Linked DNA regions of Homo sapiens. The protein of the gene in region 1 purifies or fractionates together with the protein of each later gene. This does not show direct contact. Each region holds a gene or a part of one and is shown on either strand. Other genes may lie near its edges.

Region 1 (9,683 bases):
GTAGGGATGCGAGGGTGAGAATTCCAGAGAAGAAAAAGACAAGGAAGAAGAAAACAAATAAGACAATTTCAGTTAAAGAGAAGCACTATGAAAGAAACGAAAACAGGGTAGTGCTGTAGAGAGTATCTTTGGGAGTACCTGTTTAGAATGTGGTCAGGGACAGCTGCTCTGCTGAAGGGACATGTGACCAGAGACCTGAATGATCAGATAGAACTAACTACGTGAAGATCTTGAGAAAGAGCATTTCAGGCAGAGGGAACAGCAGGAAGAGAAACCCTCAGGCAATAATGAGCTGCCCAAGTTCAAGGAGCAGAAAGAAAGGCAGGAACTGCCTGAGGCCAGAGAAGAGTAGCTGATGAGGCCAGAAAAGCTGACAGACCAGATCTTGTAGGATCTTAGAGGTCCAGGCAAGAAGATCAGATTTTGTTCAAATTACAATGGGAAACTATTGGAGGATTTTAGGCAGGAAATTAAGTTGTGATTTTAAAAGGTCCCTTGGACCATTATGTGGAGAATGACTAGGAACATTTTAAGATGACAAGATAGACCAGTTAGGAGGCTGTTACGTTAGCTCAAGACTTGGACTAAGGTGGCAGCAGTGATGTCTCATTTTAAAAATTGTCTCTTAGAAATCCAAGGGAGAGATAACAAATATGTGATTGTATATATGGTTTTGGGGGGCATAAAAATGTGGGTGTCATCCATGGATTTCTCCCTGAATAACATGAGATTGTCATCATGTAACCACGTCATACATATGCTGGAAAATAGGAGACAAAAATTACTACTTGCGTATTAGGGAGCAACTAAAATTCCTCTGCAAAAGAATTCTATCCATCCTATTGTTCAAGTCCATGCTTACGCATCATGTTTGATTCCTATTGTCATTTTGTGCAAACGCTTATTCTTCTTTCACTCCATCAGTAAGCCTTGAGGCTCTATATCCAAAATACATTTAAATTCTAGCCATTACAACCATCCTGGCCCAAGCCATTATCATCCGCCATCCTTATTCCTGCAACAAGCTCCAAATTAGTCTCCCAGCTTTAACTCCTTTTCCCTTATAGTCCATACTACACACCACAGCCAGAAACACCCTTCTAAAACATGAGTCTGATCATTATCATCCCCTGCTTAAAATCTTCCAATGATCTCCCATTACAAATAAAATAAAACCCAAACTCTTTACCAAAGGTCTTGTCTGAACTAAGCCTATCTGCCTTTCTGGCTTCACCCCTTTCCCTTTTTATTTGTTAATCTTATCTACCAGTATCGGAAATTACACACTTTGGGTTTTTTTTTTTAACCTGTTTCTTAGATATCTACTCCAACTAGGATATAAACTCTTATTAACCAATGTATTCCAGAGGCTGTAATTATGCCTAACATTATGTATTGGGTGGATGAATAAATGAGAGGAATGAGAAAACTTAATGATATAAAGGTGAAAAAATAATAACAGATGCATGTTTGAATATTGAGAAAATTATTTTTAAAAGTATTGACTAAATAGAGCAATTCAAGAAGGTTAATGTCTTTACATAGAGGACAAGATTACATTTTTGCCCATCTTCTTCTGTTTTTTTTTCCACCCTCCCTTCCTACCTCCTCCTTTCCATAAACCATATCCCAGTACCTTATACTGTCTAACACATTAAAGGCTCTCCCCTGGCCCCTAGAAAAAAAAATGAGAGTTGAGAACCTTTACTTAGACATCCAAAAAATATAGTGAACTTCCCTCAATTCTTATCAGTGGTAGCTTACCATGTCTAGTAAACTTGCCTAATGAAAAGTCACCCTGAGAAGTTATTCTTGCTCTGATGTAGTGATCATCTGATATTGGGTTAAACCAGTTGATTTCCTTTCTTTGAAGACATGTTCAGTCAAAGAGATCAACAAACCAGTAAAAAAACTCCTAATGAGAAACAAAAGGTAAAAGAAACTAAACCATAATCATAAACCAGGTAAAGTTTAAATATTGAAAAACAAGTGGGAAAAGATGTTAAAATAGCATTTCAAGAACATTGACCTAAATATTTAGAAAGACCCCTGTATTGACTGATATTTTCCTCCTTGTGTGAATTACAACTCCCCCATCCCTTCTCCAGCCAATGGGATTACCTCCTGCTAGTTCCAGAAGGTAACTGCAGGACAATCAACCTGTGAAGGCTTCTCCTCTCTTTAAATGCCCACAGGGCTTTGTTTGTCATTATCAAATGCTGCCTTCTATTAAAATTTTGTTATGCATAGTTTATTCCCCATAGAAGCTTTTTACTTCGTAGATCTAAAGATTATTTTATCTTTGGCTCCTGCTACCTTTATAAAGGTTTCCCAGTGCCTTATAATGTGAGCCACACTAAAATATTTTCTGTGCATGAGTTTGATTTCAGAACAAAGTGGAGAATCACTCCTTTAGAAGTTATGGGAAATTTTTAAAGAGTTTTTTTTTTAACACAATTATGTCATGAGGAATGTAGTCCTTTCAATGAGTAACTTAAAAAAGGATTTGGAAAATAATCTCAATTTTGCATGCTGGAAGGAGTTCTACAGTGTAGCTTTTCAATTCTAGCACATCATTTCAAAAAAAACCTGCATTACAAAAAAACTGCCATACAAACTGCCTTACTTCATGTTAGAGTGATATGTTTTCTTTTCTTTATGAAGTGAGAGAGAAGTAGACAAGCCAGAGAAGTAAACAAAGGCCATCTAAGCTAAACAAGTGTCCTTAATCCACATCTGAATTCAGTCCTTAAGACTCAGAAAATACTGCTTTTGATAACTGTTTTCAGTGTTTACAGGTATGACGAAAGTGATCAGAGCAAAAAGGCACCATTTCAGTGACAGCTAAAGCTACTCAAGACACCATTTTTTGACTGAAGCCAAGAGCCTTGGTAAGAGGGCTATTAAGCATTCCAGTCTCAGCTGACTCCTGCTGTTGCAATGTATGTCCACTATTCTAGCATGTATTTTGGAGATGTATTTTAGGATATCATTCAAATATTTCTTCTGTTCCTTTCTGCAAAAAAGAAACCCCACTGTAGAGAGCTTTGTGATCTACTCTCCCTATGTTTGACCCAGGAAAGTTCTCCATTTAGTAGTATTTAGAGGGTGAGGAGATTTGTACGTATTTTGACTTATTGTTGATAATTGTGCCCTGCCCCCTGGAATTCAAGTCAAGTCAGTGGCCTCTGCTGATGAAATTGCTTTTGAGGCAACTTGACCTTGACTCTATGAGAGTTTATGTCTCACAGCTATAGATGTTAAATCCTGTCATGGATTTATAGGCTCAAAATGGTCTTGATGCCAAACTGTCCCCAAATGGTGTTTCTGTTCTGTTCTTCTTAGGATTTTTCCACCTCACCACTTACTCTTCACTCAGCTTCATGGGATGGAAAAAACATTATTCATTGAGGGGACTGGGAATAGCAGAGTTTGCAACCAGCTGGACACTCAGGAAATCTTACCCTATGGGTCTCAGTTTCTTCCTCTTGGACTAAAACTAGATTGCTAGTCTTTTAACACTAAAATTCTACTGCTTCTTTTTCACACTTTCTCGCTCACAGATCTCTAGCTTTGTTCTCAACCTACTCCTTTCTAAAAAAAGAAATCAAATGTCACCCAGAATTTTCACTTTCCCTGAAGTAAACGTCCTCAGTGCATATGAACCATCAAATGGCTTATAATCCTGGGTTGAGGTCTACACAGAATTTGATTCAAGTGCATACTTTATATTTTTTGCAAATATTAATGAGCTATACCATGAAAAAGACATAATTACTGTTAACCTTTATTGTTATTATTTTATCAATGTGAAAATAAACTAAGCTCTATTTGCTCTACTCTTGTTTTGATACCAAACTAGGCTTGTTCTGCCCAGCATGCAGTAAGTCAGTTACTGAGATAACAAGTGTATTAATCCGTTTTCATGTTGCTGATAAAGACCTACCTGAGACTGGGCAATTTATAAAGAAAAAGAGGTTTAATGGACTCAGTTCCACGTGACTGGGGAGGTCTCATGATGATGGTGAAAGGCAAAAGGCATGTCTTACATGGTGGCAGGCAAGAGACGGCATGCAGGGGAACTCTCCTTTATAAAATCATCAGATTTCATGAGACTCATTCACTATCACGAGAACAGCATGGGAAAGACCCAATCCCATGATTCAATTACCTACCGCTGGGTCCCTCCCACAACACATGAGGATTATGGAAGCTACAATTCAAGATGAGATTTGGGTGGGGACACAACCAAACCATATCAACAAGTTTTGCAGTAAAGAGAAGATTTTATTCACAGGACAGCCCAGCAAGGAGATGGAAGAACAGCTTTCAAATCCACCTCTCCAAAGATAGGGCTTAGAGATATTTATGGGGTAAAGAAGCAGGGTGGTCTAAGGTGTGGGGAAGGTGATTAGCAGTGGGGAAAAATGAATAGGTGGTCTGAGCATGCATAATCAAGGTTCATGACTCTTCATAGGACACATGTTCAGAAAATGGTGGCATTAGCATGCTGTGAAGGTGAGGTTTTTGGCCTTCTGGTATCAGAAAGTCACTTCTTGGGCATTTGTGCAGGCCCAGTTGAAGGGCCTGCAACTCTCTTCTTTCCTTCTTCTATCTGCTTTCTCATTCTCCTATTATCCTTACTCCATAGTAATAAGGCCCAGGAGTCAATGGGCAAGGTAGAAAGAGGGTTGGTGGTCTCTTTCAAGTAGTTTAACTTGGGTAAGAACACCTAGTTCCTGAAAACAAAAACAAAAACAAAAACTTTAAGCAACTATTACCATAGTGACATACATGCCAGAGACGTTGTCTATAAGGAAGCTAGTGACAGATTAGATGTATATTGTTTGGCTACATGACTTTTAGCTATATGGGCTTTGAGATCAACTAGAAGTAAGCAATAAAAAGCAAGCAAGGCAGGCTGTTTGGTGGGCCTCACCATGTTAGACCTGGGTTTCAGTTTTCTATTTCATAGGCTCTGAGCCTTCTTAAATATGAAAAACTCTCATTAGTGGCCCATATCTAGCACCTTCTAAAAACAGAGGTGGAATGGATTTCTTTGTGGCTGTGCCTCATAAATCCCACTCTCACCTCAGGGAATTCATCCCTCAGAGATTCCTTCATTTGCTATCTGGTGGGAAGTATCTGGAATGGAACCAACAACTTTAGACAGCTCCAGACTTTGTTAAGTGCCTACAAAGAGTGTGTCTTTCATTCCTTCTCATTTGGCGCATCCTCCTCCCAAATACTCTCAGATTATTTCCCTTCTGTCCATATTCACTCATGCATTCGTCTAGTCCTCTATCTGTCTACTCAAAGAAAAAGAGCACCCTCATACACTGTTGATGGTAATCTAAGCCGGTATTTTTTTCCTGGAAAACAACTTGAAAATATACACATCTGTAGTCTTAAAAATAGTGGGGATTTGGCTGGGCACGGTGGCTCAGGCCTGTAATCCTAGCACTTTGGGAGTCCGAGGTGGGTGGATTGCCTGAGCTCAAGAGTTCGAGACCAGTCTGGGTAACACAGTGAAACCCCATCTCTACTGAAACACAAAAAAATTAGCCAGGCATGGCAGTGTGTGCCTGTAGTCCCAGTTATTCGGGAGGCTGAGGCAGGAGAATTGCTTGAACCTGGGAGGCAAAGGTTTCAGTGAGCTGAGATCGTGCCACTGCATTCCAGTCTGGGCAACGGAGTGAGACTCCGTCTCAAAAAAATTCCAGAAAGCAGCAATAGCTACTTCACCCTTGAAGTTGGCCTAAGCATGGCATTGCATTCAGAGTAACAACTGTCCTTCAGCCAATGAGAAATTAAAAGCAAATAGAATCTAATGTAGGCTCTCAAAAACATCAAATCTGGAGTGTATTCAAAACTCCCAACAAAACCTTCTGAAATGATATTGCCCCAGTCAATCTGAATCTCTTTCGTGTGCTTTGCAGTTATTCCAAAAGCAAGACAAAGGAAGATTGAGCAGGCTCCTCTTACGCTCTAGACCATCAATATTCTCTCCGCAGCTCACTTCAGACTCTCTTCTTTCCCTCTTTGTTTTCTCATTCCCCTGTTATCCTTACTCCATTCCCCCACTAGTAATAAGGCCCAGGAGCCAACGGGGCAGGTAGAAGGAGGGTGTGGAGCTCGGAATTGGCCAGTGTTTCAATCCCTTTTATTCAAAATTGCCCTTTGGTGGGCCATTTCATTAGTGAGATTTTATCAAAAGAAACGTGTATGCGTCATACAATTGTCTATAATGCTAAAGAATTAAAATAACTTGAATATCCAAATATAAGCACACTGCCTACAATCAAATGTAATGCAAGTATTAAATGCTTTTACTTCAGACATCTTTTGACGTGGAAATGTATTTAGAGTACACTTTTCATTTTTTGAAAGAAATTATGAAAGAAAATATACAACCTGTTACCATTTTGAAAAGAAATATCATGTATTTTATATACATAGAAAATGTTAATATTGGTTGCCATTGGTGGTAAAATTGTGAGGAATTATTTTTTTCTTCACATTTACCTGTATTTTCTAATTCATTAGAATTTGTGGTTTATATCAGAGATAAAAAGACAAAATACAAGCCATGCAAATATTATTCCTCTCTGGGAATTTACTGCCTGGTGGAAGTCAGACAAGACTATAAATAAATAATTCAATGTACTTGAGACATTAAAACACATCTATATACATATATATATATAATTACAGAAGAAAAGGCAAACAAGTCTTTTGGAGGAGTAGAGGTATCAGGAAAAACTACACTGAGGATATGAGTCTTAAAGGAAAGGTAGGCATTTTCCAAAAACTGAATATAAGGCAGGGAAGGATAGTATTCAAAGGCATGGAAGAATAAAAGTGCATGGCATATTCAGAAAACATATAGTAAATTTAGTATGCCTATTACAGATGGTGCAAGAGAATAGTGCATGAGATAGTGCATGAGAATAGTGCATAATGAACTGGAGAAAGAGGTTGGGATCACATGTAAGAATCCATTATGTCATATTGAAAATTTGGAATTTTTTCCTGAAAAGATAAGGAGCTAATAAACAACTGTAAGACAAAAATAATCATTCAACATCTTATTTAGAAGATAATTAGTGATTGGGCATGATGGTTCATGCCTATAATCTCAGCTGTTTGGGGGGCCGAGGCAGAAGGATCACATGAACCCAGGGGTTTGAGACCAGCCTTGGCAACATAGCAAGATCCTGTCTCTACAAAAATTAAAAAAATTAGCCAGGCATAGCAGCACACCTGTAATCACAGCTACTTGGGAGGCCAAGGCAGGAGATCACTTGAACCCAGGAGTTCAAGGTTGCAGTGAACTATGATCTCAGCCTTGCATGCCTGCCTGGGTGACAGAACAAGACCCTGTCTAAAAAGAAAATAAAAAGAAGATGACTAGTTCTAGTGCAGAGTACAGATTGAATGCATACAGACTGGGGAAAGAGGGTTATTAGAAAACGGTTGCAGTAGCCTGGTAAAAGCTAATGAGGGCCCCATGTAAGGACAGAGCTGTGGGTAGCAGAAGATCTGCTGTGAGAGAGACTGAAGAGGAACAATCAATAGGACGTATTGCCTAGCTTCATGTATACTGGTAGGTAGAGAGGGGTGTTAAATATTCACCGAGCTACCCTGGTTGGGTGAATTAGTGAATGCAATTGCTATTCTCTAAGATATGAAATATATAAGGAGGAAGAAAGTTTATGGAATACAGAATACAGAAGAAGGAGAATGAGAGGGCTGAGGAATGGGAATAAGTCAACTTTTAGCTATGTTGAGAGGGAGATGCCTATAGACAGGTTCAGTAGTCACAGATGGAGTTCAGGACGAAGATCAAGACTAGAGTAAAAGTCATAAATTTTCTTAAGAGCACTCAGGAATGTGCATCATTCACCTTCTCATAAGAGGGAAAATCAAGACCACTGCTTGGCTTTAGAGATCAATTCCAGATGACACAGATTAGAGAACTCAGGGTAAGGATTAAATAATAAAACAATATTTGGCATAACATATGCAATTCTGGAAGATGTAATATTTACTAACAAAGTATGAAGACACTGATGTGCTTATTGCATTGTAAGTAGAGTTAACAGTCTGATTCTTCTCATTGCATTGATATACCCAAAGATCAAAATCTTGAGACGTCAAACTATAGTTTCATGACCAAATATGGATTTCAACACTATTAACAAGCTTTTTAAAAGTTAGATAGACAGAAAACTCAGAAACATTCATGATTCTTAAGGATTAGGGAAGGTGTTATACGCTTCATTAAGTCAAAAGTAGTTGACAAATGTTTAATATTGCACTATCAGATTAATTTCAAATATATTATATCAAAAGACATAAAATGTACGGAATTTTTATAATCCTGTTTCCTCTTCCTAATAGGATCACAGTTTTTCCCTTTCCTTCTTTCTTTTTATTTTTTTGTTGCTTATCAGTTCAATGTAAGATTCAAGGGTCAACATTTATAAATTTAAATGGTTTACAGTTTTCTCATGATCATTGGCTACTTGAACAATTGCTGTTAGAGGGGTCACATGGGAACTGACAGAAAAGCTCAGCAACGGAAGACTGGAGAAGCATACCTCAACATTTATAGAAAGGAAATATTCAAATAATATTTTTAAGTGGTAGGTTAGGCATCCCTATACAGCACATGACCTGTAAATAAGGAAGTATGACGAGACAGAAGAAAGTGGAGAAGCGAGATAATGATACATTGGGTAAATCCATAATTATGTAACCAAGGAATGTCCTCAAAGTCTTGTACACACAAACAGGTTAGACTGGTTATTCATAAAAATGTTTAATTTGCAAAATTATTTTGTGAGCAAACATCTCACTATCGTGAACGTTTGGTGCTTCGAAACAAATACAGAAACTTTTCATAATTGTTCATGTCCTTACTGGGAACAGTCCTGTCTCTATTAAGGCTTTACCCTCAGAACCAGAATCAAAAAATAGTTTTGTTTCTCCCAGCTGTCTAACCCTGCCCAATTTCTTCTCTCCTGTGCTGTCCTCCTTCACTATTTATGCTCAGGAACCCAGCTGTGCCTTAACCAAGAGTGTGTGGTGCGCTTAGCATGCTTTACACACCACATTTTCTTTCCACTTATATATTTCTGTCTTAGTCCTTCCTGCCAGCTTAACAACTCAAGATGGCACTGGCAGTTATTCCCAATTAAGCACTTTTTACAGAAAGTGAGAGGGGAAAGAAAATTACAGTCTGAAAGCTATATTGTTAGCCACGCCCATTACTACCCCTTCTGGCTGAACCGACGTAACACCTACTATTGTATTTTTTCTTTAAATTTATTTGAACCTCCGTTACACAGAATTGCGGTCATATTTATACGAGATCTATTTCCTTACACAGTATTATGACTGGTCTTGGAGAAAACACTTTTACTTCCTTGTTTGTTTGTTTATTAATAATAATAACAATAAGCGGCCATGAATCTACTACTCAACACAAGAAGTGACAGAGTGCCAGTGACTTCATCAACTCTGTACTCGTCCCCCACCCATTAGAAGCATTATGCCAAGTCTTATTTGTCACTCCCTTGCCTCTTTATATATAGTTTTATCCTATATTATTTACATATTTATCTCATGTATACACGTACATATGAATACTACTTATGTGTTTCAAAAACTATGTATTT
Region 2 (10,462 bases), on another chromosome or scaffold:
CATGGCAAAAGTGAGAATTTTTCAGGACAACTAAAAATCCATCTTCTCTACTTCTTTCACAAATTCACTTATGATTCCTAACATGAAAACTTAAGTTTCATTTTAAGTATAAAACATGATATAAACATTCCTAGAAACTATATTTCTCCCAATTATTAGTCAACCTAGGGAAAGTGAGATTACTTAGGTTAACAAAATAATTTTTGTTTTGTACGTTGCTTTTTAAGGAAAAATATTTTTCTGGGGATGCTGGGTTTTAAGATAAATTTTAGTTACATAGAAACCAATGAATAATGGTAGAAAAGCATGATGCTTTTGATTTTTTAAAAGGTCCACTTAAAGTCAATCCATGTCAGTTTTTAAGCTTGGACTATCTTTTCTTGATATATATACTGAATCCTAAAAACTGAAGGCATTGCAGACAGAGCCCTTTTAAGAAATCAAATAGCTTCTGGGGCAATTAATATTACTTTCCAATTTAGCAAATCTCATTTTCCTTTCCCATATCTAATGATCTTTCCCTCTTCTAGAAAATACTGCCCTTCTCTTTTATGGTCTACCTTTTTTTTTTTTTCTTTCAGGAGGGAGAAAAATTAGTGCTTCCTTTAGAAATCAAAATTTTTGTTCCTGGTTTTCTTCTTTTATCAGATACACAGCCACATAAATAAATGGAAACTTCGTACATTTGTAAATTGTCAGTACATACCTAGGAAGAACTTCTCTACCTTCTGAATATTAATATGTGACTATATAGGCAGAATTAAAGGTATATAAACTGGAGCCCTCAGGAAAGTATAACCTCTATAGTATAATGGAGAAAGAGGAGTTTGTAATTTGTCTTATAAGTGCTTTGCAGATTGGCACATGATGTAAATCTATGATTCTCAGTTTTGGTTCTTGGGATCCTTTACATTCGTAAAAATTGAGGATTTTATGGAGCTTTTGCTTATGTAGGTGATATGGTTTGGCTCTGTGTCCCCATCCAAATCTCATCTTGAATTGTACTCCCATAATTCCCAGGTGTTGTGGCAAGAACACGGGGGGGAGATAGCTGAATCATGAGGGTGGTTTCCCTCATACTGTTCTCATGGTAGTGAGTAAGTCTCATGGGATCTGATGGTTTTATCAGAGGCTTCTGCTTTTGTGTCTTCCTCATTCCCTCTTTGCCTGCTGCCATCCACGTAAGATGTGACTTGCTCCTCCTTGCCTTCCGCCATGATTGTGAGGCATCCCCAGCCACGTAGAACTGTGAGTTCTCTACTAAACCTCCTTCCTTTGTAAATTGCCCAGTCTCAGGTATCTCTTTATCAGCAGCATGAAAACAGACTAATACAGTAGGTTACCTATATTCAAATTTCCAGATTAAAAAATTTTAAATATACTAAATATTTACTATAATGGGGTACTGATCTAAATTATACCCTAGAGCCAGATGCTGTGGCTCGTATCTGTAATCACAGTTACTTGGGAGGCTGAAGCAGGAGGATATCTTGAGGTGAGGAGTTTGAGACCAGCTTGGCCAACACAGAGAGACTATGTTTCTCTTAAAAACATATGAATATATATTTGTGTGTGTACACACACACACACACACACACACACACACACAGCCTAGAGAAGCCAATGCCATCTTTTTGCAATGTAGGAAGAGCCAAGGTGAGAATGAAGTTAACAAAGAAGAAAGCATAGCTCAAAGTGACATCCTAATGACATAGTTTCAGACTCTGAATCTAGCCAACCCTGAAGCTACACAAGTCCAGACTTGTTAGCTGCATAAGCCAATGAATTTCTTTTGGCTTCAACTAGGATCAGTTGCTTGCAACCAAGCATGTCATCAGACATCTGGGTTTCCAATCGTGGGCTTCAGGGAAATAGAGTAACTGAAGCCAAGAAAAGCAAAACTGCAGATAAGGGAGGGCTACTGTGTACTTCATGCTACTGAATTGTACACTTTTAAATGGCTAAAATGGTAAATTTTATGAATGTGTATTTTACCATTTAAAAAATGGTGAGGATGAAGCTTTGGTTGCTTTAAATGTATTTTTTCCCCAAAGAAAGATAGATTATGGTCAAGAAGAACTTTAAATTGGCTGAATTAGGCTTTGTATTTTTTCCCCTAGAATTGCTGTAACTAATTCTGGTCTGAAAATAGGTGAGTACAATACAATAAGATATTTTGAGAGACAGAGCCCACATTAACATAACTTTTATTACAGTAAATTGTTATAATTGTACTATTTTATTATCAGTTATTTCTGTCAATCTCTTACGGTGACTACTATATAATTAAACTTTATCATAGGTATGCACATGTAGGAAAAGACATAGAGGAGAGTCTGGACCCAGAAAAGCCCAATGAGATTTGGCCTTGCTTATACTGAAATTGTGGGCCAGGCGCGGTGGCTCATGCCTGTAATCCCAGCACTTTGGGAGGTTCAGGCAGGTGGATCACAAGGTCAGGAGATCGAGACCATCTTGGCTAACATAGTGAAACCCCGTCTCTATTAAAAATACAAAAAATTAGCCAGGCATGGTGGCGGGCGCCTGTAGTCACAGCTACTCTGGAGGCTGAGGCAGGAGAATGGTGTGAACCCGGAAGGCGGAGCTTGCAGTGAGCCGAGATAGTGCCACGGCAGTCCGGCCTGGGTAACAGAGAGAGACTCCGTCTCAAAAAAAAAAAAAAAAAAAAAGAAAAAAAAGAAATTGTGATTAACCACAGAAAAACTAAGAGTTAACTGGTGGGCTAAGTGTAAATATACCAGTACTAGGAAAAAACTAACTTCAGGCCGGTCACAGTGGCTCACGCCTGTAATCCCAGCACTTTGGGAGGCCGAGGCAGGTGGATTACCTGAGGTCAGGAGTTCAAGACCAGGCTGGCCAACATGGTGAAATCCCATCTCTACTAAAAATACGAAAATTAGCAAGGCATAGTGGCACACACCTGTAATCCCAGCTACTCGGGAGGCTGAGGCAGGAGAATTACTTGAGCCCAGGAGACAGAAGTTGCAGTGAACTGAGATGGTGCCACTGCATTCCAGCCTGGCTGACACAGCAAGACTGTCTCAAAAAATAATAATAATAATAATAACTTCATTTCTACTGAAATATAAAGTTTCATTCCATGATAATTGTAATGAAAGCCACATGTTAACCTATTTTTTTTATGTTGTCTTGGATGGTTAATGGCAACTCTTGTAGTTTTCATGATGAAAACCCTAAGAATGGAAAGAATAACTCCCTGGGCACTTCTAATTATTTACATACAAATTCCCACCCCAACCCACACCACACCCCATGTCCCATGTTTCCTGAGACATTTATCAATATTTGGAAAATGGCACTCTCTCCTACCTTTCAGAAAATTTTCTTTGGCATAATATTGATTCCAGGATGAATTCTGAAGAATGTCACACTGTAACAAGAGTAATAGTGTGTACATATTATAATATTCATTCAATAACCATCAGTAAAAGTTCACTCTAGACAGTAAAGTCACTGCGTTTTTCCTTTGTAAGGTTTGTAAAAGGTTGCTGAATTTGAGAAAGATGAATACACTTAAGAAAAACGGTTGAAAGACAAGCATTATAATTTAGTTCCATTATTATTTTTTAGGAATTTTAATACTTACAGTCAGTAAAACATAATGAATGTTAATAAACCTCCATATACTTTAGAACAGGGGTCCCCAAACTCTGGGCCATGGACAGGTACCCATCTGTGGCCTATTAGGAACCAGGCCACACAGCAGGCAGTAACCATTACTGCCTGAGCTCCGCCTCCTGTCAGATCAGTGGCTGCATTAGATTGTCATAGGAGCATGAACCCTATTGTGAACTGCGGATGCGTGGGATTTAGGTTGTGGCTTCTTATCAGAATCTAATACCTTATGATCTGCAGTTTTCTAGAACAGCTTCATCCCGAAACCATCAACCCTCCCCATCTCCATCCATGGAAAAATTGTCTTCCACAAAACAGATCCCTGGTGCCAAAAATGTTGGGGACTGCTGCTTTAGAAAATTTAATTCATATCCACCCTTCCCACTTAAATTTTAATGAATTTAACCATCACCCCTTTTATGAATGCAGAAAGTTAGTCTCTTGTCCTCTTATTATTGATTTGTGAAATAAAGTGCCAGTTTTCTTCCATGAATAATTACAGAATATTCTAATTAAAGGAGTGCTTATTTAGTCTACCACTATACTTAAAAGGTACTTATTTAGTCTACCATCTTATTTAAAGGATGAAGGAAAAGGCCCAAATTTGTTTAGGGTCACAACCTGTTAGTGGGCAGGTTTAGACCTTACGTCTAAGATAGATGTAAGACAGACGATAAGCTCAAGATATTTTCTAATCATTTAGAGTGTGTTGCAGAGAATAGAGATAGGTTAGGAAGATAACAATATAACCAACTATTTGCTCTTCATGTTTAGTTTGAGATAACGGAAATCATTCTCTTGGACATACTTTCTTATCTTTATCTCTCATTTCAAACTAGTTAACAACCCGTTGGCCACCAGGATCTAAGGTGACAATGATAGGGAATGAGTTCATGACCTGGCTTAAATTTTTAATTACTGTCAAAAATACCAGCAATACACATACTAAAAACAAAAACAAAAGCAAAAAAGCCATTAATTTATTTTACCCACTTCAATTCCATCCATCATCTACTTTTAGGCCCCATTATTTAAAATGAAATACATAAGCACGTGAATCTTCAGAGGATGGGTAATTTCATGTTCCAACGGAACAATAAAAAACTCATAATCGGCCAGGCACGGTGGCTCACACCTGTAATCCCAGCACTTTGGGAGGCCAAGGCGGGCGGGTCACGAGGTCAAGATCTTGATCGAGACTATCCTGGCCAACATGGTGAAACCCCGTCTCTACTAATAATACAAAAATTAGCTGGGTGTCGTGGCACGCGCCTGTAGTTCCAGCTACTCGGGAGGCTGACGCAGGAGAATCGCTTGAACCTGGGAGGCAGAGGTTGCAAGTGAGCCGAGATCGCGCCACTGCACTGGAGCCTGGCGACAGAGCGAGACTCCGGATCAAAAAAAACCAAAACCAAAACCAAAAAAAAACCTATCAAAGTGACTTTGAAATTTGTGTATAAACACTGATATACATCTTTTAATACTTTGCTTTTCACTTTTATGCCTCCAGGTTACTACAGCTAAGAAGAGAAAACATATACATATGAGTGTGTGTACACACACACACACGCATATAACTTTTTAAAATTCAGAAGTTGAAAGGTCCAGAACGATAGTAAGAAACTAACGTAGAATAGCCACAGGTGATTAATAACACGTTTCATGAAAGGCACATGGAAATAAATGGCAACAAAAGCTACTTTCATGGTAATCTCACATCCCACGAATACTGAAATGAAAATCGCCGCGGCAATGGACTGTGGTTCAGGTGGAACACGTTCTCGTTCGCTAAGGAGATTGATGCTTTTCATCTAAAAGCAGCGCTCATGGCGAAGAGGCTTAAGGCCACAAAACCGTGGGACAGCAGGAGGAAGAGAAGCCAGGTATCTCCACTCCAGCTGCCCTGCCTCAGACTCCTCAGTTTCGCACGTGAGGATCGTCTTGCAGGCACTGACTGGAGATGGAATCCTAAAGCATAGGTGAAGCGGAAATCCTCCTTCAGGGAGAGCCCACTGAGGAAGCCAGCGGCTAGCACGAGGCAGGACAGGATACCTCCCTCTTCGCCCACGGCGGCCTCTCTGTCATAGTAGCCACCGTTCTGCCACTCATGCAGCTTTCTAAGACACCTCTCGGTTCCCCAGCGCTTTCAGTGGGGCGGCCGGCCATTCCCGAGGGTTGCAAGAGGAGGCCCGGGGTGCTGAGCCAGCCTCGCTGCCCCCGCGTAGAAAGCCGGCCCGCCGGCGAGAGCCAGCCTAAGGCGCGGACAACCAACGAGGTGTCAGGCTCGGCAGGGGATTGCTTCTGTCTGGGGCCCGGCCGAGGTTGCGTTCGTGCCTCGCGCGCACACGCTCCGCGTTCACTCAGCCAATCCGGTGCTACTCGCGCGCCCAGGAGCGATCCGCGGTCCTACTCAGGCTGGGCCGGCTCCTTCCCGCTCCCAATACTCAGCACCCGAGCTCTCACTCCTCCCCTCACTCTCCACGAGTTCCACGCCTAGGGGTGTAGCTCCGCCCTTGTCCCCGAGTCCGCCCCCGCAACCTCCAGAGCGTGTGCTATCCTTTCCTCTCAGTCCTGCCATCTAGCTGCCTTGGGTCTCGCGCTCCGCAGAGCGTTCCGACACTCTCCGGCCTCGTTCTGCCGCCTCCGCGCGCTCTCCCCGTGCGGCCACCGCGCCCCCCAAGCTTGCCTCCTTCTTGCCGGACTTGGGGCCGCGCGCCCTGACTCCTTCCCCTCCCGCGGACCCGCGCACTCCCGGCGCGGCCTCTCCCCCACGCAGGCCACCGTGCACTCTGTGGCCTCCCCCTCCTTCCCCGCTCTCCTCGCGCTTCTCTGGCTCCCTAGCTGTCGCGCTCTCCTCGGCGAGCGCGCTCCCGGCCCGCGCGCTCCGGGCTCCGGTTTCTCCCGGCTCCTGTCAGTGCGGTGACTGCGCTGGGAAACATGGCGACCGAGGGAATGATCCTTACTAACCACGACCATCAAATCCGTGTCGGAGTCCTTACAGGTAACCGGGGGAGGAGGTCTGGGACCTATGAGGCTGCTGTCCCTGCATTGCCTTAGGCTTTTCGCCTGTGGTGGCCCTTCTCTGCGGCCTCGGGAGGAGGGAAGGCTGAAGAAGGGAACCGCGGGGGTGCATTTTACAACCGCTGAGAACCGCCGGAGATTGGGGGTGTTCCCGCGGGTCCCCTCCCCCAGGCCCCAGGAGCCGGGGTCGACCCCGTGGGATGTTAGGCCCCAGCGCCTTCGGAAGCAAAGTCCTGGGCCCCCGGGGACCGAGGGGCCGGTGCGGAGGGCGCTGCGGGGCTCCGCGCTGTCGGTGCAGGCGGCGGGATCCCGGCTCCGCAGTCTGAAGCATGCCGCTCTCGGCTGGCCTGGGCGCATCCTCCGCTAGTGCTCTTCAGAGAGAGGGGGGAATCCCATCTCCACCCCCTTCCTCTCCTTCCCTTCCCCCCACCTGGGCGGCCCCACGCCAGTATCTGTGCTTGCCTGGACGAGACTCAGGTGTTAATCAGATGAAACTGCTCCTCCTCGGGTTGTCCCTCGCGGGCCGGGCGTCCCCTCAGCCACCCATGGGGCACCCTTCGCCTCCCTCGGGGGATGGGGGATCGGCTTGCGTCCGGACCTCGGAAAGTGTCTGCCTTCTGCCTTTCCGCGCAAAAGGCCCTCTGTCTGCCTCGTCGTTTCCTTAGCGAGGACGGGCTGCAGCCTGCTGCCGGGGATCCAGCTTTTTACTTGAGAGGGCAGGATTCCCCTACTCGGGCTCCTCTCCCCCTCCTTTCTGGGAACCCCCACCCCGGTAGAGCGTCCCGAGGCTGGTGAGGAGCGCACTTTTCCCGGGTCGCGTTTCCCTCCCTCGCGAAAGCCGTGTGTGTTCTGCATGTCTGATTCCGTTGCGCTGAATTTGGTTAATATCCGTCACTTCGGCGATCGGCAGTTGCTGCAGGGCATGACTTCCAAGATGAACAGCAAGCGGATTTGTAGGGGTTTCTGCTGTGGTTCTGTAATTGGCAAGGTTTATGTGTAATTGAGTGGCGAGACGGGGGTTAAAGAACTATATTTGGAATCTGAGGGCTTAGTTTGGAGTGAAGGAAATCCAAGACTCAGTGATGTGATTTCGGAAAAAGAAGCAGTGTGGACGGGAATCCTAGTGTTTCCCTTACTTCTTTTTTTAATTTTTTCTTTAACTGTCAAATTCTGACAGGTCGAGACGGTGCTCGAGAAGGGACTAAATTGAATAAGACTTGCTTTTATTATTAGGTAGAAAAAAAATGTCTGAGACTGCCGGCAGATATTGAGTGCAAAGCTTAATTTAGCTGCTGAATTTTATGAAAAGGTGATATCCAAAGCCTCCTTTTTTCTCTTTTAAGTAAAGGATTGCCTTTCCCTGGTATTCTTTCCGTATATCGATGGTGATTAATTGAATTTTCCTAATTAAAAGACCCTTGGATAGAGAAACTAGTCTAAACCAGTTGCAGAAAAGGGAACCCCCAAATCAGAAGGTGCGCTGTTCTCTTCTTTTGGTCCTGAAACTGTTTGGGTATGTGAAGATTCAGTTGTATTTCAGAATTCCTGGAGCTGACATTGCCAATTTTCGAATAATCTGATGGTGGGATGTCAAAGTGTATATCTTTTATCTACCCTCAACTTGCACTTTAAATTCCAGCCATTCTTTGACAATAATAGAGTAGTGAGAAACCAAAATATGTCAGTTGTCTGTGGAAATAAAAAAGGCCATAGATGTTTAAAAGTTAAACCGTAGAAACATTTTTAAAATGAACATTTTCTACTTAAGCTTTCCATTAAATAATAGTTTCATTTAACGAATCAACTTACCTTTGTGAAGTGACATAGCAGATAGGTGTTGTACAGACTGCTTTGAAAGATGCAGCCCTTATCTGGTGTCCCTACAGTCTAATATGGATAACATTGATACGCAAACAAATGAAGAAACATTGTATGTAATTATTGTGCAAAACTTTTCTAAATACATTACCTATGAGTTTGGGGTTAACTGCAAAAGAAATTCCGTATTCAGATGGATTAGGAGAGAATGTGACTACCTGAAGGGAGAATTTAATACATTTACTAGGTCAAGAAGAAACTGTCAATTTTAAGGGGAGTTGAAAGTCAGCAGCCACTTTATAAATAAATATATAGTTGATGATGAGGCTTCTGAGCTAAATAAAAATGCAATGTAAAGGCCTTGAAAAGCTGAAGTGGAATGGGTAGGTGGCATAGGTAAAATGTTAGAGAGAAGGTAACATTAACATTGACAGTGGAATTAAAGACAGTCAGGGGAAGCCGTCTCATGAGAATGAGGTACAGTAGTCTAGGGGGAAAAGTCTAGGGCCAGGAACAAGGATGTAGCTGAAGGAATGAAAAGGCAGCTACAGATTTGGAATAAGTGATAATAGAGGAAAATAGGTTTTGATGATAACATGTATATTTGAAGTCAGAAGTAACTCAGGCTTTTTCTTGAAAGTTGTTGATACAGATATTGTCTACTATGATGGAGAGGAAAGAAAACTGATTTTTCTCAAGTCTGTAACTAGTGGGTTTCATTATCAACAGCTTAATTTCTGTGGTCTTGCCTGATATACCATATGATTTGGGGGAAAGAACTTACAAAAATGAAGCTGTGCTGTACAATTTTGTGTATTCTAGAACTTGAGGTTTTGCAGTTTTACTATGTAGAATTATTCTTTACTGAACTGAAGTATTGTGATTTCATACTTAAGAAAGTTGAGTTGAACTGTGGTTTTTGTAAATTATTATTTGTGGCTCTTAAAAGGTGGAGGGTCTCTTTTAGAAAATCTCCTTGGCATGCTTCGTAATACTAATTTTAAGTATTTTATCTATATCTATTTTACAAAGATAGTGGAAAGTGTGATCTACCCACACACACATTTTACAATATGTTACTTAGTATTTTGTGAAGTCATATTGTCATTTCTAAAGTTTTTAATTGACGTTGTGACATTTTTTATTACCTGTTGAAAGATATTTGTTCTTTGAAACTTTTCATCCATTAGATGTTTTCGTTATCTTCATTTCAGTTGTAAATTTGGCAAATTTAGTACATAGTCTGTTGAGACTTCTCATTAAATAAATTAATTGTATTAGGTTTATGAAAGAATAATGGTAGAAAGGGAAATATTTAGCAGAAGCATTTTTTTGCTTCATTATTTTGAATTATTAAGCACTTGAAAATGAGATTATGATAATTAATGTAACATGGATATTCTAATTATACTTTTTTTTAAATCAGGAAAATGAGAACATATATGTATATAAAATAGGCTGTATGTGGAAACATTTTATGTTGAATATTATTGTCCATCTCTAACAACAATAACTTTGTTCGAAACTGTCTTATGTTGACTTGACAGAAATGAAAGTCACATGGTGTTTGGTGACCTAAGGTCTAGTTTGAAATATTTCTGTGTCTAATTAGTTGTCTACTTGTATTACTATTTATAGAAGAGACTAGAGGTAATATGGTAATGAGTAACATGAAGCAAATAAACAAGTATCTGCTACTTGAAAACTAGAAACAGGATGTGGTGCAGATGTAGAATTTTTTTCTAACAGCTTTAGTAGTGATTATACTTGAAGTCAATCTTACCAGTTACATAGCAGGCTCACTATATCTGGAATATGTCACTCTTCACATACTTTTTTCTATTTTGAAAGAAGCTGTTTATCAAAGCAGCATACTAGTTTTACCTGTAAAAGCTCTACAGAAACATTACTAGGAAAATAATGACTACATGTATGTATAGAATGTAGAATCATATAGATTATTCCA

What was found.
Region 2: the proteins of KMO (region 1) and GPHN purify together in Homo sapiens (affinity purification with mass spectrometry; 2 studies listed by BioGRID and IntAct, with this or other methods). This does not show direct contact.

What each region holds. Positions count from the first base shown.
Region 1 is NC_000001.11:241,533,674-241,543,356, forward strand, and holds part of KMO (kynurenine 3-monooxygenase), read left to right. Parts: intron 1-9,683. UniProt on the Homo sapiens protein: Catalyzes the hydroxylation of L-kynurenine (L-Kyn) to form 3-hydroxy-L-kynurenine (L-3OHKyn).
Region 2 is NC_000014.9:66,501,934-66,512,395, forward strand, and holds the start of GPHN (gephyrin), read left to right. Parts: upstream 1-6,213; 5' UTR 6,214-6,594; coding exon 6,595-6,658; intron 6,659-10,462. UniProt on the Homo sapiens protein: Microtubule-associated protein involved in membrane protein-cytoskeleton interactions. It is thought to anchor the inhibitory glycine receptor (GLYR) to subsynaptic microtubules.